Linked DNA regions of Homo sapiens: region 1 is linked to region 2. Evidence: fine-mapped expression QTL. A gene starts in region 2. The other region holds a variant in brackets. All regions are shown on one strand. Distances are from middle to middle. Region 1 overlaps LOC644215 (a long non-coding RNA gene). Region 2 holds the start of EXOSC1 (exosome component 1).

Region 1 (12,287 bases), 31 kb after region 2:
TTAAACCATCTTGCAAACTCATTGCCTGATGTTCAGATCTCCCGGCTCAGCTGGTGTCTGTGGAGTACAGGATTTATGTTTCAGAGAGGGCATGAGCCCAGATGATGCCTCAAGACTCAGGTTCTAGGAGAGAAAGCAGTGCTTCAGGGACTTTGACTGCCCCCGCCCGAAATGCAGTCGCCATCTGCAGGTAAACAGAGCTGGAGCTGGTGCTGCCGGAAAAGAAAGAGGAGGGCTCTCCGGCAGCCTGCGGCTTCCTCAAGGACTTCCCAGGCCAGGCGCTGTGGCTCACGCCTGTAATCCCAGCACTTTGGGAGGCCGAGGCGGGCAGATCATGAGGTCAGGAGATCGAGACCATCCTGGCTAACACAGTGAAACCCCATCTCTACTAAAAATACAAAAATTAGCCAGGCGTAGTGGCGGGCGCCTGTAGTCCCAGCTACTCAGGAGGCTGAGGCAGGAGAATGGCGTGAACCCAGGAGGCGGAGCTTGCAGTGAGCCGAGATCGCGCCACTGCACTCCAGCCTGGGTGACAGAGCGAGACTCCGTCTCAAAAAAAAAAAAAAAAAAGAACTTCCCTGACAGCACCCAGGTTTCCCTGATCCGCCCGCATTGTCAGACTTCTAAGGCCAGGCTTTAGTCCAAGCCTCTTTCTTTTTTAAATTTATGGCACTCTCAAAACCACCTGGTGTGCGTCAAGCCCTCTGCCACTAGACCCTGTGTGAAAACTGTAATGGTAAAATGCTCAAACCAGGGCAATAAGCACATTTTGACCCTTCTGCTTTCATTCACATAAAACTGATTTCTCAGTCTATATTAATCTTGGATCACATTTTTTTTTTTGAGACAAGGTCTCCCTGGGTTGCACAAGCCAGTTTTAAACTCCTGACCTCAAGCGATCCTCCTGCCTTGGCCTTCCAAAGCACTGTGTGAGCCACTGAGCCTGACCTCAAAATTGTACATTCAAAACAAGCTGACGTCCTGGGCACAGGAGGCACGTGCCTGTAGTCCCAGCTACTCAGGAGGCTAAAGCAGGAGGATGGCTTGAGGCCAGGAGTTTGAGGCTGCAATATGCTATGATCACACGTGTGAATAGCCACTGTACTCCAGCCTGGGCAATAAAGTGAGACCCTGTCTCTAAAAAAATTTAAAAAAAAAAGCTGGCAGAAACTTAGTTATTTGGGATTGATTTGCATCAAGTTTAGTGAATTGTTGGGAGATTAGCAGTGTGTTAGTCCAGTGTGGGGAAAAGAAAGAGAGATCAGATTGTTGCTGTGTCTGTGTAGAAAGAAGTAGACATAGGAGACTCCATTTTGTTTTGTACTAAGAAAAATTCTTCTGCCTTGAGATGCTGTTAATCTGTAACCTTACCCCCAACCCCGTGCTCTCTGAAACATGTGCTGTGTCAACTCAGGGTTAAATGGATTAAGGGCTGTGCAAGATGTGCTTTGTTAAACAGATGCTTGAAGGCAGCATGCTCGTTAAGAGTCACCACCACTCCCTAATCTCAAGTACCCAGGGACAGGCCAGGCACGGTGGCTCACGCCTGTAATCCCAGCACTTTGGGAGGCCAAGGCAGGCAGATCACGAGGTCAGGAGATCAAGACCATCCTGGCAAACACGGTGAAACCCCGTCTCTACTAAAAATACAAAAAATTAGCCGGGCGAGGTGGCGCACGCCTGTAGTCCCAGCTACTCGGGAGGCTGAGGCAGGAGAATGGCGTGAACCTGGGAGGCGGAGCTTGCAGTGAGCAGAGATCACGTCATTGCACTCCAGCCTGGGCGACAGAGCAAAACTCCCTCTCAAAAAAAAAAAAAAAAAATGAATCAAGTACCCAGGGACACAAACACTGCGGAAGGCTGCAGGGACCTCTGCCTAGGAAAGCCAGGTATTGTCCAAGGTTTCTCCCCATGTGATAGTCTGAAATATGGCCTCGTGGGAAGGGAAAGACCTGACCGTCCCCCAGCCCGACACCCGTAAAGGGTCTGTGCTGAGGAGGATTAGTGTAAGAAGAAGGAACGCCTCTTTGCAGTTGAGACAAGAGGAAGGCATCTGTCTCCTTCCCGTCCCTGGGCAATGGAATGTCTCGGTATAAAACCTGATTGTATGTTCCATCTACTTAGGGGGAAACCGCCTTAGGGCTGGAGATGGGACATGCGGGCAGCAATACTGCTCTTTAAGGCATTGAGATGTTTATGTGTATGCATATCTAAACCACAGCACTTAATTCTTTACCTTGTCTATGATGCAGAGACCTTTGTTCAGGTGTTTGTCTGCTGACCTCTCCACAATTATCCTATGACCCTGCCACGTCCCCCTCTCCGAGAAACACCCAAGAATGATCAATAAATACTAAGGGAACTCAGAGGCCGGCGGGATCCTCCATATGCTGAACGCTGGTCCCCTGGGCCCCCTTATTTCTTTCTCTATACTTTGTCTCTGTGTCTCTTTCTTTTCCAAGTCCACCTAACGAGAAACACCCACAGGTGTGAAGAGGCAACCCACCCCTTCAGTCCAGGATCTCCTAGAAGCAGTTGCCAAGACAGGATGTGCAGGAAATATATTAGAAGTGTCTGTGACAGGAAATGGGGCTGGGAGCACAGGTGTGATGCTGCGTAAGGGAAGGAGGAAGGAAGGTTTGGTGGGTGGCAGCGTCGTCTTAGATTGCAAATGCAATTCTGGGGAAAATTCAGCAAGCCTGTTGGGGGCTACTCCAGCCGAAGTTACCCTTCTTCAGAGGGGTCCTCAGGCTCCCAGGACCAGCCTGCCTTCACATCCTTGATACAGGGATGCTAAGTCATGACTGGATGCAGCCCATGGGCAGCACAGCATCTGAATGCTAGGAGGGGCCCTCAGCCAATCAGCTCTCTTCCCTGGGTATGGTGGCTTATGCCTGTAATCTTAGCACTTTGGGAGGCTGAGGCAGGTGGATCACTTGAGTCCAGGAGTTCAAGACCAGTCTGGGCAACACAGTGAGACCCTGTTTCTAAAAAAAAAAAAAAAAGAAAAGAAAAAGATAGGCCAGGCGCGGTAGCTCACGCCTGTAATCCCAGCACTTTGGGAGGCCGAGGTGAGCGGATCACAAGGTCAGGAGATCGAGTCCATCCTGGCTAACATGGTGAAACCCTTTCTCTACTAAAAATACAAAAATTAGCCAGGTGTGGTGGCGGGCGCCTGTAGTCCCAGCTACTTGGGAGGCTGAGGCAGGAGAATGGCGTGAACCTGGGAGGCGGAGCTTGCAGTGAGCCGAGATCACGCCACTGCACTCCAGCCTGGGCGAGAGTGCGAGACTCCATCTCAAAAAAGAAAAAAAAAGAAAAAGAAAAGAAAACATTATGCTGAGCCAAAGAAGCCAGTTACAAAAGACTGCATGGTTTATGATTTTACTTATATGAAATGTCCAGAATAGGCAAATCTATAGAGACAGAAAGTAGATTAGTGATTGCCAGGGGCTGGCAGGGTTGGGGGTGATAAATACAGGGTGTGGGGTTTCTTTTTGAGGTGCCAAAAAATGTTTTAAAGTTGACTGTGGTGATGTTGCACACATCTGTGAAGATACCAAAAACCACTGAATTGTACACTTTATTTTTTATTTTATTTTATTGAGACAGAGTCTCACTCTGTCACCCAGGCTGGAGTACGGTGTCACGATCTCAGCTCACTGCAACCTCCACCTCCTGGGTTCAAGTGATTCTCCTGCCTCAGCCTCCCGAGTAGCTGGGATTACAAATTTGTGCCACCATGCCTAGCTAATTTTTGTATTTTTAGTAGAGACAGGGTTTCACCATGTTGGCCAGGCTGGTCTTGAACTCCTGACCTTAGTTGATCCACCCACCTCGGCCTCTCAAAGTACTGGGATTATAGGCATGAGCCACCGCACCTGACCAAAAGTTTTAAACAATTATTTTAAAAAACAAACCCACCCGAGCCTACCTACCAGAAGCCTTTGCTCAATGGGAGTGAAGTGGGCGGGTAGCTCTGGTGGATCTAAGTGGCCACTGAGCTGCAGAAAAGCATCCGTCTGCTTTTACCCTAGTCCTGACAGAGCTCAGAACCTCCCATGGCAGCTCCAGGGATGGTTCTTAGGGTTGTGGTTGGGCAAACACATGTGGTTCCCACTAAGCCCAAGGAGAGACATAAAGGAGAGACCAAGGAGAGGCTTCTGTGGAGAAGGCAGGGGCAAAAGCTGGCTGTAAGGTCTGGCCAGCTGCACCACACTGCCCACCAGCACCTCATCTTCTCCTTTACGGAAGAAGTGACTGGGAGTCCGGGATCCTAGGTCTCATTTCTGATTTTTTTTTTTTTTTTTTGAGATAAGGTCTCACTGTGTCTTGTGGGTGGGAGTGCAGTGGTGTGATCATGACTCACCGCAGCCTGAGCTCAAACTCTTGAGCTCAATCCTCCCATCTCAGTCTCCCAAGTAGCTGAGACTACAAACATGTGCCATCACACCCCGCTAATTTTTTTTTTTTTAGACAGTCTTGCTCTGTAACACCCAGGCTAGAGTGCAGTGGCACGATCTCGGCTCACTGCAACCTCTGCCTCCCGGGTTGAAAGGATTCTCCTTTCTCAGCCTCCCGAGTAGTTGGGATTATAGGCACCCGCCATCATGCTCAGCTAATTTTTTGTATTTTTAGTAGAGACAGGGTTTCACCATGTTGGTCAGGCTGCTCTCGAACTCCTGACCTCAGATGATCCACCAGCCTCGGCCTCCCAAAGTGCTTGGATTACAGGCGTGAGCCACCGCGCCCGGGCTTTTTTATTTTTTTAAGAAATGGGGTCTCACTATGTTGGCCAGGCTGGTCTGAAGCTCCTAGGTTCAGGGGATCCTCCTGCTTTGACCTCCCAAAGTGCTGGGATCACAGGTGTGAGCCACTGCACCCAGCCCTAGGTCCCATTTCTGATTAGGTATGTTCCTTACAATGCAACTAACTTCCCTGATTCCCTGTGTTGGAAACACCTCAGCCACAGGATCTTGGAGAGGTGACAAACTGGACCTTTGAATACCTGGGCCAGGCAAGTATTCTGACCCTAGCCAGCCTGTGAACTTCCCTCCCCAGAGCCAACATGGTCCTTTATAAAAGAAAACAACCTCTGAGAGTGAATGTTTTGAGCTACAGTCACTTGAGGGGGAAAAAAAAGCTCATACCCACAGGAAAGACTGTTCTGCTGCCATGGCAACAAGTCACCACCATAACCAGTTTTAAGCCACTTAAAGACAATTCCTCTCCCTTCAGCTGAACAATTTTCCTCAGTGACCAGACATCTGACACCAGCCAATCGGTAACAGCCACACTGGTTGGCCAACCAATCCCTAAACACTACCTCCCTTGATATGTGCCCACCATTGATCTTCAACCTCCTAGCACCTTATATAAGATCAGTGCCCTGCTCCACTCACAGGGATTGCACCTAACAGGCCCAGCTCCACCTCCCTTAAGTAAGTACTGTAGTAAATGCAGCTTTTTGGTTCAGATGTTGAGAGATGGTCTTTTCTTTAGACACACTCGTATTCTGGAATCTTGCCTTCCTGGGAGCGATTGATTCTCACTTCCTCTGTGGTGTCATTGCCTCCATGCCTCTGAGCCTCGTATACCTGTACGCATCATATGCCTCTATGGTGTCACTGGGGAATGAGAAAAAGGCCAACTCCAGGCGTGGTGGCTCACGCCTGTAATCCCAGCACTTTAAGAGGCCGAGGTGGGCAGATCACCTGAGGTCAGGAGTTGGAGACCAGCCTGCCCAACATAGTGAAACCCTGTCTCTACTAAAATACTAAAATTAGCTGGGCGTGGGGGCGGGCACCTATAATCCCAGCTACTTGGGAGGCTGAGGCAGGAGAATTGCTTGAGCCTGGGAGGCAGAGGCTGCAGTGAGTTGAAACTGTGCTACTGCACTCCAGCCTGGGCTACAGAGCTAGACTCCGCCTAAAAAAAAATAAATAAATAAAATAAAATAAAATAAAATAAAAGGCCAACTCTTCTTCTCTACAAGGCACCAATGAAGACTGGATTTCAGACCCCTCATCTGGGAAACTAAGCAGTCCACATACTTCACAACTGTACACGGCAACCGTGCTCACCCCTCATAACCGCTAGCCTTCACGTGTCATTCTACCTCCCCGATACCTTCTCCAATCTGTCCTTCCCTCTTTGCCCCCGCTGCCACATTCTTAGTTTCAACCCTTATGGTTTCTTTCCTGTACTGATGCAGCAGTTTCCGACACATCAGTGACTCAGGTCTTGCCTGCATCTAGAGCAAACACATCGTGTTCTTACTTGCCCCTGTGCCTTTGTAGCTGCTGTGGCCTTGCTTGGCCTGAACAGCCACCCTCAGCTTCCTGGTCAACTCTAGCTCATGCTG[T/C]AGCACTCAGCTCCAACGTCACCTCACCTGAAAATTGGCCCTGACTCGCCTCTCAGACATGACTATAGTCTGCCAGGCTCTGGACTCCCATAGCTCCTGACCATACCTGGATGATGGCACTGATTGCCACAGGGATTGTTTACTGCCACCCCAACCAGCCTGTGAACTCTAGATGTGAGAGCTAGGCTGCTTTCATTGCTTGGTAACCAAATGGTTATAAAGAACAGGAATTGGGAGAGGAGTAAATTACAATTATAACTCCCCACTTAATGCTATTGGGAATCTTTCCCTAGCTTTGGTTTCCCCATTTTAAAATGTGGATAATAGGCCAGGTGCAGTGGCCCGTGACTGTAATCCCAGAACTTTGGGAGGCGAAGGCAGGAGGATCATGTGAGGCCAGGAGTTAGACACCAGACTGGATAACATAGTGAGACCCTGTCTCTAATTAAAAAAAGAAAAAAAGAAAAAATAATAATAGGCCAGGCGCGGTGGCTCACCCCTGTAATCCTAGCACTTTGGGAGACCGAGGCAGGCAGATTGCCTGAGGTCAGGAGTTTGAGACCAGTCTGGCCAACGTGGTGAAACCCGATCTCTACTAAAAATACAAAAAAATTAGCCAGATGTGGCGGCATGTGCCTGTGATCCCAGCTACTCAGGAGGCTGAGGCAGGGGAATTGCTTGAACCAGGGAGGTGGAGGTTGCAATGAGCCAAGATCATGCCACTGCACTCCAGCCTGGACGACAGAGCAAGACTCAGTCCCAAAAATAAATAAAAAATAATAATAATAAAATAAAATGTGCATAATAATAGCACCTACCCTATACAGTGGTTGCGAGGACTCAGTAGGATCACACATGTGAAGTGCCAGGTCTATAGAGGCTAATAAATGATAGTTCTTATTACCACAGAGAGCCCCTGACACAAAGGATACATCCATTAAATGCTATTTTCCTCTCCTCTTCTCTGCCACAATGCCCAATCTACTTGGCAGGATGGTATAGTGGTTGGATAAATGATGGACCAACATTTCTGTTATTTTCCTTGATTGCAACCTTCAAAAATTATTGTCCAGGCAAGATAGCTCACGCCTATAATCCCAACACTTTGGGAGGCTGAGGCAGGAGGATTGCTTGAGCCCAGAATATTGAGACCAGTCTGGGCAACATAAGGAGACCTTGTCTCTGCAAAAAATTTAAAAATTAGCTGGGCATGGTGGCATATGCCTGTAGTTCCAGCTACTTGGGAGGCTAAAGTGGGAGGATTGCTTGAGCTCAGGAGGTCAAGGCTGCAGTGAACCGTGATCGCATTCCAGCTTGCATGACTACTGCATTCCAGTCTGGTTGACAGACATAAAAGATATACCTTGGACAGCCCCTCTTAGACACCCTAAGAGCGTTATCTGAACCTCTCTTGTGCCCCTTGCTGAGCTCTGCATAAGTCATGTGTTCACTTGGCAAGCAGATGTATTGAGCCACACACTGTGGTAGGCTCTGATGGCGCCAGAGTAGACCAGACATGGTTCCTGTAATCAGGGGTTTCACAGTCAGATGGTCAGATGAGGGAGGCAGAGAAGCAAAATGCAATTCTATTAATTGAGCATCAGTGAACAATAAAGTTACCAGGGGCTTTAGAGAGCTCTGGGTACAACATCTTCAATGTACAAATAAGAAAACCGAAGAGTTTTGTGCTTGTCTTTTCACCATTCCCCCATAGGTTACTTTCTTTTTTTTTTTTTTTTTTTTTTTGAGACAGAGTATCTTGCTGTTGCCCAGGCTGGAGTGCAGTGGCGCGATCTTGGCTCACTGCAACCTCCACCTCCCAGGTTCAAGCAATTCTCATGCCTCAGCCTCCCAAGTAGCTGGGATTACAGGCGTGTGCCACCATGCCTGGCTAATTATCCCCTGTAGGCTTCTTTTTTTTTTTTCTTTTTTTGACGGAGTCTCGCTCTGTTGCCCAGGCTGGAGTGCAGTGGTGCCATCTCGGCACACTGCAAGCTCCGCCTCCCAGGTTCACTCCATTCTCCTGCCTCAGCCTCCCGACTAGCTGGGACTACAGGTGCCCGCCACCACGCCAGGCTAATTTTTTGTATTTTTAGTAGAGACAGAGTTTCACCATGTTAGTCAGGATGGTCTTGATCTCCTGACCTTGTGATCCACCCGCCTCAGCCTCCCAAAGTGCTGGGATTACAGGTGTGAGCCACCGCGCCCAGCCCTATCCCCTGTAGGTTTCTTAAGGCAGAGCAAGAGTCTTTTTCTTTTATTATTTATTTATTTTTTTTTTGAGACGGAGTTTTGCTCTGTTGCCCAGGCCGAAGTTCAGTGGCACAATCTCAGCTCATTACCATCTCCGCCTCCCAGGTTCAAATGATTCTCCTGCCTCAGCCTCCCGTGTAGCTGGGATTACAGGTGTGCGCCACCATGCCCAGCTAATTTTTGTATTTTTAGTAGATACAGGGTTTCACCATGTTGGCCAGGCTGGTCTTGAACTCCTGACCTCAGGTGATCCACCCGCCTCAGCCTCCCAAAGTGCTGGGATTACAGGCATGAGTCACCGCACCCGGCCAAGAGTCTTTTTAGATGGAGTTTCACTCTTGTTGCCCAGGCTGGAGTGCAATGGCGTGATCTCGACTCACTGCAACCTCAGCCTCCCGGGTTCAAGTGATTCTCCTGCCTCAGCCTCCCAAGTAGCTGGGACTACAGGCATATGCCACTATGCCTAGCTTATTTTGTATTTTTAGTGGAGATGGGGTTTCACCATGTTGGTCAGGCTGGTCAGGTGCCCGGCCCATAAGCTTCTTTAAATACTTTCATATGTGTGCTTAGCATAGTACCTTGCACATAATAGGTGATCAAGAAATAACTTTTGAGTATGTAACTGGGTTAAATTAATTAGAACCAGTCCTCCTAACACCCAGCTGAGATCCAGAGGCTGCTAGTTGCCTCCCCAATATCAATTCTTCCTTTCTCTCAATAGGCACAGGGGGTGAGCTGCAACTTACCCAACTAAAAGACTAAATTTCCCAGCCCCTTCTGCAGCTAAATTTGGCCAAATTACTAAATTCTAGTCAATCAAGTGGAACTGACTTAGCTGGAAGGTGCACCTTTTGGCTCTTCCTCCTTTCCTTCCTACACTAGGCCTCCACCTGGATCATGAGTGTGACAGCTGGAGCTCCTGCAGCCCATCTGTGGAGCACAAGGTGACAGTGAAAATGGAAGTCATACGTTATGGAGGTTGAAGCAGAAAAAGAGAGGGATCCCAGGATCCTGAAGATTCTGTGGAACTGCCATAGCAGCCTGGACTGCCCATTACCTCCTGATTTCCATTTCTTGAATGTGAGAGAATTAACCCTTGCCTGTTTAAGCCACTGTAGCAGTCTCTTATAGCAACTGAACACAATTCCTTACTGATATAGAGGCCCTGAGAAGAATGAAGAATTTGAAGTGGTAAATGGGGAACGGTTTAATTTTGGGGTAAGTGGAGAGAGAACAGTCCTCCCCATTGAGCAGAGTCCCCTGCCATGCCCAGATTCCAGTCTTCCTCAGCCTAGGAGGGGACATGCTTCCTCTCCAGCACACCAGGCTCTTTCCCCAAGAGTTATTCTAGAAAGCAAGCTCTTTTTGGCTTTTGGATTTTTTTTTTTTTTTTTTTTTTTTTTTTGAGACAAGGTCTCACTCTGTCACCCAGGCTGGAGTGCAGTGGCACAATCATGGCTCACTGCGGACTTGACCTCCTGCACCTCAGCCTCCCGAGTAGCTGCGACTGTAGGCGTACATCACCATGCCTGGCTATTTTTGTGTTTTTTGTAGAGTTGGGGTTTCTCCATGATGCACAGGCTGGTCTTGAACTTCTGGGCTCAAGCGATCCTCCCACTTTGGCCTCCCAAAGTGTTGGGATTACAGGCGTGAGCCACCACACCCAGCATCAAATGGAATTGTAATGCCCCAGGAGCTGAGGGACACTTGACCCCTGCAGCAGTGCTGTGCCAGGCACTGGGCTAAGGATTTCACATGCATTATCTCATTTTAGCCTCATAACAGCAGCCCCATTTTCAGATGAGAAGACTGTGGCTCACAGAGCTCAGCCGCCTGCCCCGGCTCACGCAGCTGGGATGTGGCTCCAAACCCAGGCTTCCTAAGTCCAAAGCCTGGGCTTCAACACAGCTCCAGCAGTTAGGAAAACCGTCCGGAGCAGCTGCAACAACAACGGGTTGGTCAAAATGCCCTGACCTTGAGCTCTAGGTTAAACACCCAGACCTCTGCTTCCTCTTTGTTTGAGGCAAGAGGCTAAGCCTCAATTTCCCTTTCTTCCTGCCCAGTGTCATAACAGATTACAACTTGCTGACCTAAAACTGGTTTTACTGCTCCGCATGGCCACAGAACTTTGGGTGTGGCAGCTCTGTTACCTCCACAGGAGCCTTGCAGACAGTTTTAAGAGCAGTGCAGGCCGGCACGATGGCTCACGCCTATAATCTCAGCACTTTGGGAGGCCAAGGCAGGCAGATCACCTGAGGTCGGGAGTTCGAGACCAGCCTGACTAACATGGAGAAACTCTGTCTCTACTAAAAATACAAAATTGGCCGGGCTTGGTGGCACATGCCTGTAATCCCAACTACTCAGGAAGCCTGAGGCAGGAGAATCGCTTGAACCCGGGAGGTGGAGGTTGCAGTGAGCCGAGATTGCACCATCGTACTCCAGCCTGGGCAACAAGAGCGAAACTCCGTCTCAAAACAGAAAAAAACAAAAAAAACAAGGGCAGTGCTATGGGGGGAGGGGGTTCATCCTGGGCTAAGCGTTGGATCTCCTGGCTTCTGCTCACTGTGTGACCTTGGGGGTGTCACTGAACCCCTTAGAACTATGTTTCCCCATCTGTGAAATGAGGACACCTGCTCTGTCCTCCTCACTTAGAGAATTAATGAAAAAGTATTTTGGAACTGAGGAAGAGTTTTTTTAGATGATAATAATAGCTCACATTTATTGCATGCTCACTGTGTACCAGGCAGCGTGCTCAGCACTTAAAATTCATTATCTTATTTAGTTCCCATAAATCAGACAGGTAGGCATTCTTATCATCTCCATTTTACAGATGTGGAAAACTGAGGCTCAGGGAAGAGTAAGGTGAGTTGTTCAAGGTCACAGAGCAAGTGGTGGTACTTGAATTCCAACCCAGAGAGTCTAACTGCAGGACCTATCCTACAGATGTGGTGGTCCTTATTAACCATATGTGGAGGGGCTGATCATGGATACAGCTAGAGCCTCTGGGTGGGAGTTACTGCTGGAATTCAGGGGTGGAGAGGTGAGCCCTGGGGTACCGGGTGGAAGAGATTGTGCTCAGGCCATTTGGATGCCTATCGTCCTCTCTTCTGGTAGAGCACGCCTCCTGGAGGAGGCTCTGAGCAGATGCCTCAGGATGGACGGCCAGCAGGTGACCTAGGGCCCCTCAATGCCCATACCAGGCTGACGATTTAGCCAGGGCTGTATTCAGTTACGACGCAGACTCGGTTTGGAGGCCAGCAGGTTTCTGTAGCCCAGGAAAAGGATGGGACATCTGCCACTACCCTTGGCCTCTGCATCTCCGCATCTGATTTGCAAAATCCCAGTCTACTAGTTGGTATTGCAGGCTCTCTATAGGGTTTTAGCCCTAACAGGTTGTTGGTAGCACTCCCTCTGGTGGCAAAGATGCACCACTGACCCCTCTGTAAAGCACAATACTACACATGTTTTGGAGTTGTCCGTAATTTGACACAGATACACAGTTTCTTTTATTTTTATTTATTTATTTATTTATTTTTGAGACGAAGTCGCACTCTGTTGCCCAGGCTGGGGTACAGTGGCACGATTTTGGCTCACTGCAACCTCTGCCTCCCGGGTTCAAACGATTCTCCTGCCTCAGCCCCCCAAGTAGCTGGGATTACAGGCGTGCACC
Region 2 (12,287 bases):
TTAAGGGGAGGCCGGGCACGGTGGCTCACGCCTGTAATCCCAGCACTTTGGGAGGCCGAGGCGGGTGGATCATGAGGTCAGGAGATCGAGACCATCCTGGCTAACAAGGTGAAACCCCGTCTCTACTAAAAATACAAAAAATTAGCCGGGCGCGGTGGCGGGCGCCTGTAGTCCCAGCTACTCGGGAGGCTGAGGCAGGAGAATGGCGTGAACCCGGGAAGCGGAGCTTGCAGTGAGCCGAGATTGCGCCACTGCAGTCCGCAGTCCGGCCTGGGCGACAGAGCGAGACTCCGTCTCAAAAAAAAAAAAAAAAAAAAAGAATTAAGGGGAGTGTAGAAAAGAGAAAAAAAGGCCGGGCGCAGTGGCTCACGCCTGTACTCCCAACACTTTGGGAAGCCGAGGCAGGCGGATCACTTGAGGTCAGGAGTTTGAGACCAGCCTGGCCAACGTGGTGAAACACTGTCTCTACTGGAAATGCAAAAAAATAGCTGGGCATGGTGGCGCGTGCCTGTAATCCCTGCTACTTGGGAGCCTGAGGCAGGAGAATCGCTGAAACCCGGGAGGTGGAGGTTGCAGTGAGCCAAGATCGCGCCAGTGCACTCCAGCCTGGGAGACAGAGTGAGACTCCACCTCAAAAAAAATTAAAAGCTCACGCTCAAACTTCCACCCCTATTGTTTGGAAGCATGATTTGGCTTGTAGCATGAATTTTTAAAATAGTAGACACCCACAATCAAATGTAAGAGTGGGACAAAACAGATTACCCCACAACAAATCTAGGTGGCTTTTGGACTGTCCACACTGCTGTTCATTCCCTTTCTATAGGTCATGGAGAGTTTCCTATTTGCCAAAATACTTTTTGTAGCAATGGCATGCAAATCCAATGCACTCCTTGTTTGTAATAAACTCGAATTATATACTACCTCACACCTCTTCTAGTCTTAAAAAAAAAAAAAACTTCTATTCTCCACTTTTCAGATCATTCTTAAACATGTCCTAAATTCTTCAGCGCTGCAGGAAATGTCTGCCTCAAAGACCAGATTTACCCAATTCTTTAGGGTTCAATTCTGTCCCTAAGCAGTTCCGTAACCTCAGACAAATCATTCAACTCTACTGGGACTCAATCTCCTTGTGTTCACATTCAGTGAGGGAGTAGGATTAAATGCTAAGGTCCCTTCCAGCTCTAACCTTTTATGATTCTGTAACTATACAGATACAGTCAACCCCCATATCTGCGGAGGGATTGGTTCCAGTCCTCCCTTCAGATACCAAAATCCATGGATGCTCAAATCTGATATAAAATGGCATAGTGTTTGCATATAACCTATACGTATCTTCCCATATACTTTAAATCATTTCTAGATTACTCATAATACCTAATACAAAGTAAATGCTACACATAAACACTTTTTTTGTTTGTTTTTGAGATGAAGTCTCGCTCTGTTGCCCAGGCTGTAGTGCAGTGGCAAGATCTCGGCTCACTGCAACCTCCGCCTTCTGGGTTCAAGCAATTCTCCCTGCCTCAGCCTCCCAAGTAGCTGGGATTACAGGCACCTGCCACCTCGCCCAGCAAATGTTTGTATTTTTAGTAGAGACGGGGTTTCGCAATGTTGGCCAGGCTGGTCTTGAACTCCTGACCTCAGGTGATCTGTCTGCCTTGGCCTCCCAAAGTGCTGGGATTACAGGTGTGAGCGAACCACCATGCCCAGCTGCCCCCAAATATTTCCAATCCATGGTTGGATTGGATCAGCAATGTGAAACCCACAGGTATGAAGAGCAAACTTCTTTGGTAAGTGTAAATGAAATGTTTATAAAGCACTTAGCACAATACCCGGCTCATGGAAGTACTCAATAAATATTTGTTGAATGAATGACCTGGAGGGATGCAGAAGTGGAAAGCCTGGCCAGATGTCTATCTGTCCTACAAATACCAGCAAGGACACTCCTGCCAATGTGGTAACACTAAATAAGTGTCTGCTGTTATCATTCTTCCTGATTCATAAAGAGAGAAATACAAACTGTTATTAAAATCATGGCACTTAGGAGCTAGAAGTCGTTTTTGAAAACAAGCCCAACCAGAAATCAGCCCAACCGTGTAAACAGAAAGCTCCTAGACGCACAGATACAGATTTGGGTGAACAAAGTCTGAGGCTAGGGCCTCTCTCCATTAGCTAATGGGGTATGGGATGCCAGGAAAATTACATATGTAGTAAGTGGGCCGCAACTGAACACACAGACTTTTCTTTTTTTTTTTTTTTGAGATGGAGTTTCACTCTTGTTGCCCAGGCTGGAGTGCAATGGCACAATCTGGGCTCACCACAACCTCCGCCTCCTGGGTTCAAGCAATTCTCCTGCCTCAGCCTCCTGAGTGGCTGGGATTCCAGGCATGTGCCACCACGCCTGGCTAATTTTGTATTTTTTTAGTAGAGACCGGGTTTCTCCATGTTGGTCAGGCTGGTCTCAAACTCCCGACCTCAGGTGATGTGCTTGCCTCAGCCTCCCAAAGTGCTGGGATTGCAGGCGTGAGCCACCGCACCTGGCCCAGACTTTTCATCTCAAGAAATAGAAGTAAAGCAAAATTCAAAAAGATGTGTGTAGGGGAGAAGGGGCTAATCTCAGTGAACGGGAGGAAACAGAGCAAAGCGCAGCTTTACTACCACCCCAAGCACAAGCCCGAGTACTCTGATCCTTCAGTAATAGTCACAGGCCATACTGGTCATCTGCCACCAGACTGGAGGAGATTGCTGGCCACAACACTCCCCTCTTCCCATGGCTTTAAGTCACATCTGTTTCCCAATGGGAAAGTCGACTGAGGGGACAGGGAAGGACAGACGGCAAAGCCATCAGAAGTCAGGTGAACTGAGATCAAAGTCGTGGCGAATGTCATCTGGACAAAGACGCTGCTCTCAGGATGTTTGCAATCTCAAGTAGGAGATACCCAACATCAATAAAGAGTAGCATTTTATTCATGTGCAGACCTCCCTTCTGGGCTAACACGCTGAGAAGAAAAAGAGTAACAACTTTATTTTGGGGCTGCTTATCTTTTGATGACGGGCCCACACAACCAGAGTTCGGCTTTTTCAACCAGAGAAAGCTTACTGAAGTGGGGATGAGGGGCCGCGAAGAGGATCGGACCGCAGGACTGGAAGCTGCAGTTTAAAAAACCGGGAAAAGGCCGGAGGCAGTGGCTCATGCCTGTACTCCCTGCACTTTGGAAGGCCGAGGCGGGCGGATCAAGAGATCAAGACCATCCTGGCTAACATGGTGAAACCCCGTCACTACTAAAACTACAAAAATTAGCTGGGCGTGGTGGCGCGCGCCTGTAAGTCCCAGCTGCGCGGGAGGCTGAGGCAGGAGAATCGCTTGATGCCGGGAGGCGGAGGTTGCAGTGAACAGAGATCGCTCCACTGCACTCCAGCCTGGCGACAGAGCGAGACTCCTCAAAAACAAAACAAAAAAACCGGGAAAAGGTTTTATTTCTCAATGACAGCCGCGAGGTGAAACTGCGATGGACTGGAAGTCAAAAACCGTGGGTTCCAGTTTGGGCTCTATCTTAACTATCTTGATCATTTTGGACAAGTCAAACCCTGTCTCTGAATCTGAGGTTCCATATCTGTGAAACAGACGAGTTGGGTCGCTTGACCTCCTTCCCTCCTGCTCTGAGCGTAACGATTGCTCGGAAGGTGCGCTCGGGCTGAGGAGGGCACGGCCCCGCAGGGCGGGGCGAGGAGAGAGCAGGAACCCGCACTCAAGACAAGGCCCCAGGGCAGTGCCCTACCCAGAAAAAGGGACTAGGATGGGGAGCAAGGGCCGAGGCTTCGCCCTTACCTGCCGCCTGCCGACTCCCCAGTCAGCCAAACCGAGCCCCGTAGCCTCTGCCGCCGCTCACTGCCACCCCCTCCGACTCGGCGCCCCGGCCGGGCCCGGCTCAATCCAAACCACCATGGCCCGCCGCCCGCAGCGCCAGGCAGCGGACCCGGACCCGCCGCCAGCCCATCCTCAACCACACGCGCAGGCGCCAGCGTGGACCTCTGAAGTTCCGCCCCCGGATTTGTCCCGGGGTAACCTGGGAAATGGAGTTTACTCGCAAGGATAAAGAGTACCAATTGACACGTGTCTTACTGCGGAACTGTGCCTGGGTTTGGCCAATGAGAAATCGACTTCGTTTTCATCCTGGTTTTGGGACAGCGGCAATCATGGCGCCACCTGTGAGATACTGCATCCCCGGTAAGTGAGCGCTTCCCGTACAGAGTCCTGGATAGGGGCTGAAGCAAGAAGGCTAAACGGCCTACAGCTTCTGGGGGCCCGTGACCGATGCAGCATTTTTTCTGCAGGCGAACGTCTGTGTAACTTGGAGGAGGGCAGCCCGGGCAGCGGCACCTACACCCGCCACGGCTACATCTTTTCGTCGCTTGCCGGCTGTCTGATGAAGAGCAGCGAGAATGGCGCGGTAAAGGAAGCGGCATGCCATCTCCCCTCTGTTTTTCCCTTAGGCTGCCCTTGAGTTCCAGTCCTTAGGCATGGGCACTGCGGACGCGTCTTTAGTGCCTCAGTGGTACAATGTTGGTCTCTTAGTTTCTTCTAGCCGTATCGCCGCTGTGGTGCACTTAGCCACCACACACTAGTTGTGTTGATCTCGCTTGGTTGTGCTGCTGACCCTCGGGGAGGGAAGTTGGGACAAAAGCAGATGCGAACTCAGTATCCCATCCCAGCCCAGCTCAGCCCAGCAGTGAGTTGCATACTGTATGAATGTTGCTTACCTTTCCGACTTTATCTAGCGCCACTATCTCCACCTCACTGACGCAATCTAGTCATACTGTCTTTTCTGTGTTTAAAAGTTATAATCACAGTCTCTGCTTGCCCTTTAAAAATTTTTTATAACATACTAGCTTCTTTCAGTGTCGGTAATGCGCCAAGCTTTCTCCTGCTACAGAGCCTTTGTAACATGCCATCTATCTGGAACGCTTCTATCTTCCTAGGCCTATTTAATTCCTACCTCCTTTAGATAGCTTCTCTACTATCACCTCAGAGAAGTCCTTCTGGACCCACTAATTGAGGAAAGGAGTTTTGTGGGGTGTTTTGTTTTTGTTTGTTTTGTTAAAGACTCACAAAAAACTCTGTTCCTTTTCTTCCAAGCACTATGTCAGCATATGATGAGACACTCAGGTATATGTTTCCTACTAGACTTCTCCCCTGCTTAAATCTAAGTCCGTGAAAGCAGGCCCTACCACCATACCATCCGTATATAGCACAAGGCAGCTCCTCAATAAATGTTGAATGTGTGAGTAATACCTACCTTTCTAGTTTCAGAGATAGATCCAGGATTAGCTCAGGATCATATAAGCAATATTTGAAGGAGCACAATAGAAAGAGGATTCAGAATTAGAACAGTTACGTTCTGGCTAACTTGACTTTGATTCTGCTTTGAGTAAGTAACTTAAGCTGTCTGATTCAAGGGGCTTTCTATTCAGTCATTGTTGGGAATGTTCTTAACAGTCCTGAGTTTGTTCATTTCATAGATATCACTTGAGTATTTTCATGTGTCAGGCACAGCGCTGACTTGGTTTCTGCTATCAAAGGACACAGACACAAATTGTAAACAAATAAATGCTCAAATGAGCATATGGTTACATATGTGGTGGTGCTTTGAAAGAATATTACAGGGCACCTTGAGAACATGTAACAGGCAAACCCATCCTAGTCAGCAGAAGTGACATTTAAGCTGAATCATCTAAAGAGTAGGTAAGAGTCAGGTGGGTGGAGAGAGTGCAGCTCTGGCAGAAAGAATAGGTTGAAGAGAGATCTGAAAGTGGGAAGAATTTAGTAAGTTGGGGAAACTGAAAGAAGGCCAGGAGAGCTGAAGCATTGTGAGCAACGGAGAGATTGATAAAAGATGAGGCTCAAAATATCTGTCTTATACCAACAGCCAATACCATGCTCAAAGAGAAAACTCTGCAAGTATTCACTTAAAATAGAAGAAAACAAGCATAGCCGCTATTATGTAACATTTTTGTGGAAATTTCAGCCTGTGCAATAAAATAAGAAACAGAAGGAAGCAGTATAACTTTGGAGGAAAGAGTAAATTGTCGGCAGGGCGCAGTGGCTCACACCTGTAATCCCAGCACTTTGGGAAGCCAAGGCAGGTGGATCACCTGAGGTCAGGAGTTCGAGACCAGCCTGGCCAACATGGTGAAACCCCATCTCTACTAAAAATACAAAAAATTACCCGAGCATGGTGACAGGCTTCTGTAATCCCAGCTACTCGGGAGGCTGAGGCAGGAGAATCACTTGAACCCAGGAGGTGGAGGTTGCAGTGAACCAAGATGGCACCCTTGCACTCCATCCTAGGCAACAAGAGTGAAACTCCATTTCAAAAAAAAACAAAAAAAGTAAAATTGTCAATGATTATAGGCAATATAGTTGTATACCAAGAAATTCTGAGAGAATCACCAAAAAACTTATTAGAAGTTTAGAGATTTACTACAAAAAAAAGTAGCTGGGCATGGTGGCGGGTGCCTGTAGTCCCAGCTACTCGGGAGGCTGAGGCAGGAGAATGGCGTGAACCCGGGAAGTGGACCTTGCAGTGAGCCGAGATCGTGCCACTGCACTCCAGTCTAGGCGACAGAGCAAGACTCCGTCTCCAACAACAAAAAAAGAAGTTTAGAGATGTATGTCTTCTAGCAGCATTCTGTAGCCTCCTGGTCCTCCTATTTCCTAAAATTTCTAAGGCCTTCTGCTCTGGGCTATAAATGAATCCATACTCCAACTCTCACCTTTATACCAAGACATTCCTATATTACTCTCAAGCCACAAATGCCTTGACCCAAGGGTTAGTCAGGACATTTCAGTTTTTTGTTGTTCCCTCTGTAGCTTCCAGTGGTGTCTGTAGTGAGAGAAACAGAGTCCCAGTTACTGCCAGATGTGGGAGCTATTGTAACCTGTAAGGTAAGTTGGTCCTGACCTCCATGCTTAGAATGCCCATTCAATACTGAAATCATGACCATACCAGAACTGCAGTGTCCAGTATGATAGCCACAAGCTACATAAATTTATTTCTGGCAGGGCACAGTGGCTCACACTGGTAATTCTAGCACTTTAAGAGGCCGAGGCAGGAGGATTGCTTCAGCCCAGAGTTCAAGACCAGCCTGGGAAACATAGTGAAACCTCATCTCTACAAAAAGAATCAAAAATTGCCGGGCATGGTGGCTCATGCTTGTAATCCCAGCACTTTGGGAGGCCGAGGTGGGCAGATCACCTGTGGTCAGGAGTTCAAGACCAGCCTGGCCAATCATGGCCAACATGGTGAAACCCTGTCTCTACCAAAAATACAAAAATTAGCTTAGCGTGGTGGTGCATGCCTGTAATCCCAGCTACTCGGGAGGCTGAGGCAGGAGAAGTGCTTGAACCCAGGAGGTGGAGGTTGCAGTGAGCCTGCGTCACAGCAGTCCAGCCTGGGCAACAGAGTGAGACTCCGTCTCAAAAAAAAAGAAGAAGAAGAATAAAAAATTAGCCAGGCATGGTAGCACATGCTTGTGGTCCCAACTACTTGGGAGGCTGAAGCAGGAAGATCGCTTGGGCCCAGGGGGTTGAGGCTGCAGTGAGCCATGATCACTCCAGCTTGGGTAACAGGGCAAGACTCTGTCTCTCAAGAAAAAAATAAAATTGATTTCCTTAGTCACATTAGCCACATTTCAAGTACTCAATAGCCACTTGTGGCTAGTGGTTGCTATACTGGTCAGCACATGACTTTTCTGTCATCACAGAAAGTTTTACTGGACTGTGCAGGCTTACAGATTTCTAGGATAATAATCAAGGCAGCCAAGTTCAGGCATGCATAGTTCCTTCACTGAGCTGATTCCCTGAATACATAGTTCTACCTGTGTCTGGGAAACAGGGATGCCAGAGGATGATTAGGAGGCCTATTTTTGAACATCTGAAGCTGAGTTCTTTTTCTGCAGAGAAGCAAAAGACTTTATTTTTTGCCATTCCTGTTTTTTTTTTTTTGAGACAGGGCCTTGCTCTGTCACCCAGGCTGGAGTGCAGTGGCACGATCTCGGCTCACTGCAGCCTCTGGCCTCTTGGGTTCAAGCAATTCTACTGCCTCTGCCTCCCGAGTAGCTGGGATTATAGGCATGTGCTGCCACGCCTGGCTAATTTTTGTATTTTTAGTACAGGTGGGGTTTTACCATGTTGGCCAGGCTGGTCCTGAACTCCTGACCTCAAGTGATGCGCCCACCTCAGCCTCCCAAAGTGCTGGGATTACAGGCATGAGCCACTGTGTCCAGCCTCTTTTTTTTTTTTTTTTTTAATTGTTAGCCATCTATACTTTAAAAAGTCTATACCTCTCTGAAGGGCAAGTTGTGAAAAGATTTAAAAAAAAAAAAAAAAACCCAGCCGGATGCAGTGGCTTACACCTGTAATCCCAGCACTTTGGGAGGCTGAAGCAGGCGAATCACCTGAGATCAGGAGTTCGAGACCAGCCTGACCAACATGGAGAAACCCTGTCTCTACTAGAAATACAAAATTAGCTGGGCATGGTGGTGCATGCCTGTAATCCCAGCTATTCAGGAGGCTAAGGCAGGAGAATTATTTGAACCCAGGAGGCGGAGGTTGCGGTGAGCCAAGATCGCGCCATTGCACTCCAGCCTGGGCAACAAGAGTGAAACTCCGTCTCAAAAAAAAAAAAAAAAAAAAACCCATACCACCTTTGTTTCCCATAGTAACTCTACCAGGTGGCCAGAGTGGCTCTTATTCCTCTTTACATGTGTCACTTACGCAGAGAGAAGTAGGAGTTAATTTGTCTTAAATTCTCTACTTAGTAGGGTTGCTTGCACTGAAGCCCTAGTAATCCCCAGTTTATTGCTGCCTCCTTGAGCTGACAACTGCTTATACTCTGATGCTGATCTTTTCTCTATTCCGCAGGTCTCTAGCATCAATTCACGCTTTGCCAAAGTACACATCCTGTATGTGGGGTCCATGCCTCTTAAGAACTCTTTTCGAGGAACTATCCGGTAAGAAGTATCCTTTTCACATATACCTTAGCAACTGGAATAAGATTAGGATAGACTAGGACACCAGAATTTTGAGCAACAGTTACAATTCCTATTTTTCTTTTGCCCGTTTTTCTTTCTTCTTTGTGCTTTGATTCTCCCCTAGTAGTATCCAAAAAATACATGGATGATCTAGGACAAAAGGAAAATATTAACGAGAGGGTTTAAAAGTAAAGCAAAGGCTGGGCGCGGTGGCTCACGCCTGTTATCCTAGCACTTTGAGAAGCTGAGGCGGGTGGATCTCTTGAGATCAGGAGTTTGAGACCAGCCTAGCCAACATGGTGAAACCCCATCTCTGTAAAAAATACAAAAATTAGCCAGGCACAGTGGCTCACACCTGTAATCCTATCACTTTGGGAGGCTGAGGTGGGTGGATCACAAAGTCAGGGGTTTGAGACCAGCCTGGCCAGTGTGGTGAAACCCTGTCTCTACTAAAAATACAAAAACTAGCCGGACATGTTGGCGTGTGCCTGTAATCCCAGCTGCTCAGGAGGCTGAAGCCAAAGAATCGCTTGAACCCAGGAGGCAGAGGTTGCAGTGAGCCAAGATTGCGCCATTGCACTCCAGCCTGGGGGACAGAGCGAGACTCTGTCTTTAAAAAAAAAAAAAAAAAAAATTAGCTGGGCATGGTGGTGCGTGCCTGTACTCCCAGCTACTTGTGGAGCTGAAGCAGGAAGATCACTTGAGCCTAGGAGGCAGAGGTTGCAGTGAGCTGAGATTGCACCACTGCACTCTAGCCTGGGCAACAGAGTGAGACCCTGTCTCAAAAAACAAATAAATAAATAAAAGGTAAAGCAAAAAGAATTGAGTGAAGCTGAAGTTTAGCAGTGTCAGGATGACTCAAACCAAAGTAGAAGGCAGGCTGGGCGTGGTGGCTCATGCCTGTAATCCCAGCACTTTGGGAGGCCGAGGCGGGCGGATCACCTGAGGTCGGGAGTTCGAGACCAGCCTGACCAACATGGAGAAACACCGTCTCTACTAAAAATACAAAATTAGCCAGGCGTGGTGGCACATGCCTATAATCCCAGCTACTAGGGAGGCTGAGGCAGGAGAATCACTTGAACCTGGGAGGCGGAGCTTGCGGTGAGCCAAGATCGTGCCATTGTACTCCAGCCTGGGCAACAAGAGTGAAACTCCGTCTCAAAAAAAAAAAAAAAAAAAGTAGAAGGCATTTTAGGAAGCACTTTAAAATTTAATATAGATTGAACTCAGAGGTTATAAAACATTGAAAAGATTTGTGGGTGAGATGGTGATTTCGTGTGGCTTCCTTGAGAAAGGACAAACATTTCTTGCCAGGCAGATAATCTAACTTTTGAGGCCCTTTCCAGCCTCAGGATTTGATGTGGTTCTGTAGTGCAGCAGTCCCCAACCTTTTTGGCACCAGGGACCAGTTTCTTGGAAGACAGTTTTTCCACAGACCATGGAGGGGGTGGTTGCAGAATGATTCAAGTGCATTACATTTATGGTGCACTTTATTTCTGTTATTATTACACTGTAATATATAATGAAATAATTATACAGCTCACCATAATATAGAATCAGCGGGAGCCCTGAGTTTGTTTCCCTGCAATTCGATGGTCCCATCTGGGGGTGATGGGAGACAGTGACAGATCATCAGGCATTAGATTCTCATAAGGAGTGGGCAGCCTAGCTCCCTCATATGTGCAGTTCACAATAGGGTTCATACTTCTATGAGAATCTAATGCCCACTTCGATCTGACAGGAGGCGGAGCTCAGGCAGTAATGTATGCGATTGGGAAGCAGCTGTAAATACAGATGAAGCTTGCCTGCCACTCACTTCCTTCTATGCAGCCCGGTTCCTCACAGGCCACCAGAAGTTGGGGGCCCTTGCTATAGTGCTTCTGTTCAAGCCCTGAGGCAACGAAATTCCTTATCCTTTCTTGCCAAATCCGATCTGCCTTTATCTAATCAGAGGTATTGATACTGCCTCTCCATGTGGTCTGAGGATGCTTCTCCACCCTGCTCCTCTGGGTAGCAGCTGTGTCCCATTTACAACTTGTTCTGTCTGTTCTTGTAGCTCTTTATTTACTAGGAATCTACAGAATAATTCTTTCTCACAGGCTGGGCAAGGTGACTCATGCCTGTAATCCCAGCACTTTGGGAAGCTGAGGCGGGTGGATCACCTGAGGTCAGGAGTTCAAGACCAGCCTGGCCAACATGGTGAAACCCCATCTCTACTAAAAATACAAAAAACTAGCTGGGCATGGCGGACGTGCCTGTAATTCCAGCTGCTTGAGAGGCTGAGGCACGAGAATTGCTTGAACCCAGGAGGCGGAGGTTGCAGTGAGCAAAATTGCGCCACTGTACTCCAGCCTGGGTGACAGAGGGAGACTCTGTCTCAAAAAAAAAAAAAAAAAAAATTCTTTCTCACAGGTAATTAATCTTTCTGTTAATTCTTTTTTTATAGCAAGGAAGATGTCCGAGCAACTGAAAAAGACAAGGTTGTTGGTTGGTTCTTTTTTTTTAATGGCTTTACGTATCTCAATCCCTTAAAAGTATTATCTCAGGCCAGGCATGGTCACACACACCCGTAATCCCAGTACTTTGGGAGGCTGAGGCGGGAGGATCACTTGAGTCCAGGACTTCAAGACCAGCCCTGGCAACATAGCGAGACCCTGTCTCTACAAAAATTTTAAAAATTCAAAAATTGGCCAGGCATGGTAGCTCATGCCTGTAGTCCCAGCTGCTTGAGAGGATGTGGCTGGAGGATTGCTTGAGCCCAGGAGTTTGAGGTTAAGTGGTGGCACGCACCTGTAGTCCTAGCTACTTGGGAGGCTGAGGCAGGAGGATCCCTTGGTCCAGCAGTCCAAGGCTGCAGTGAGCTACCATTGCATCACTGCACTCCAGCCTGGGTGACACAGTGGGATCCCACCTCTTAAAAAAAAAGAAAAAAGGGCCGGGTGCAGTGGATCACACCTGTAATCCCAGCTCTTTGGGAGGCCAAGGTGGGCGGATCACAAGGTCAGGAGTTCAAGACCAGCCTGACCAACATGGTGAAACCCCGTCTCTACTAAAAATATAAAAACTAGCCTGTGTCGTGCCATGCACCTATAATCCCAGCTACTCAGGAGGCTGAGGCAGGAGAATCGCTTGAACCCGGGAGGCAGAGGTTGCAGTGAGCCGAGATCGCACCACTGCACTCCAGTGTGGGCGACAGAGCGAGACTCCATCTCAAAAAAAAAAAATTTTCATTTGTATGATAATACTGTAGAAGCAAT

Evidence for each region. PIP is the estimated chance that this variant, and not a neighbour inherited with it, causes the effect.
Region 1: its variant is the best candidate, but not a certain one, in a credible set for the expression of EXOSC1 in stomach (GTEx, PIP 0.78).

The regions. Positions count from the first base shown.
Region 1 is chr10:97,407,072-97,419,358 of GRCh38, reverse strand. It overlaps LOC644215 (a long non-coding RNA gene), which reads left to right. Exons shown (of 2, transcript NR_157582.1): 2 at 1-612. Among named protein-coding and RNA genes, the nearest start is that of RRP12, 12 kb to the right of the region's middle. RefSeq lists an enhancer at 712-761. The variant T/C (reference allele first, on the strand shown) is at 6,365.
Region 2 is chr10:97,437,893-97,450,179 of GRCh38, reverse strand. It overlaps EXOSC1 (exosome component 1), which reads left to right and starts at 4,174. Exons shown (of 8, transcript NM_016046.5): 1 at 4,174-4,225; 2 at 4,333-4,448; 3 at 6,869-6,943; 4 at 8,921-9,009; 5 at 11,477-11,510. The coding sequence starts at 4,195. ZDHHC16 (zDHHC palmitoyltransferase 16) reads right to left here and starts at 4,005. Exons shown (of 12, transcript NM_198046.3): 1 at 3,827-4,005. RefSeq lists a silencer at 3,744-3,953 and enhancers at 3,885-4,464, 4,465-5,045.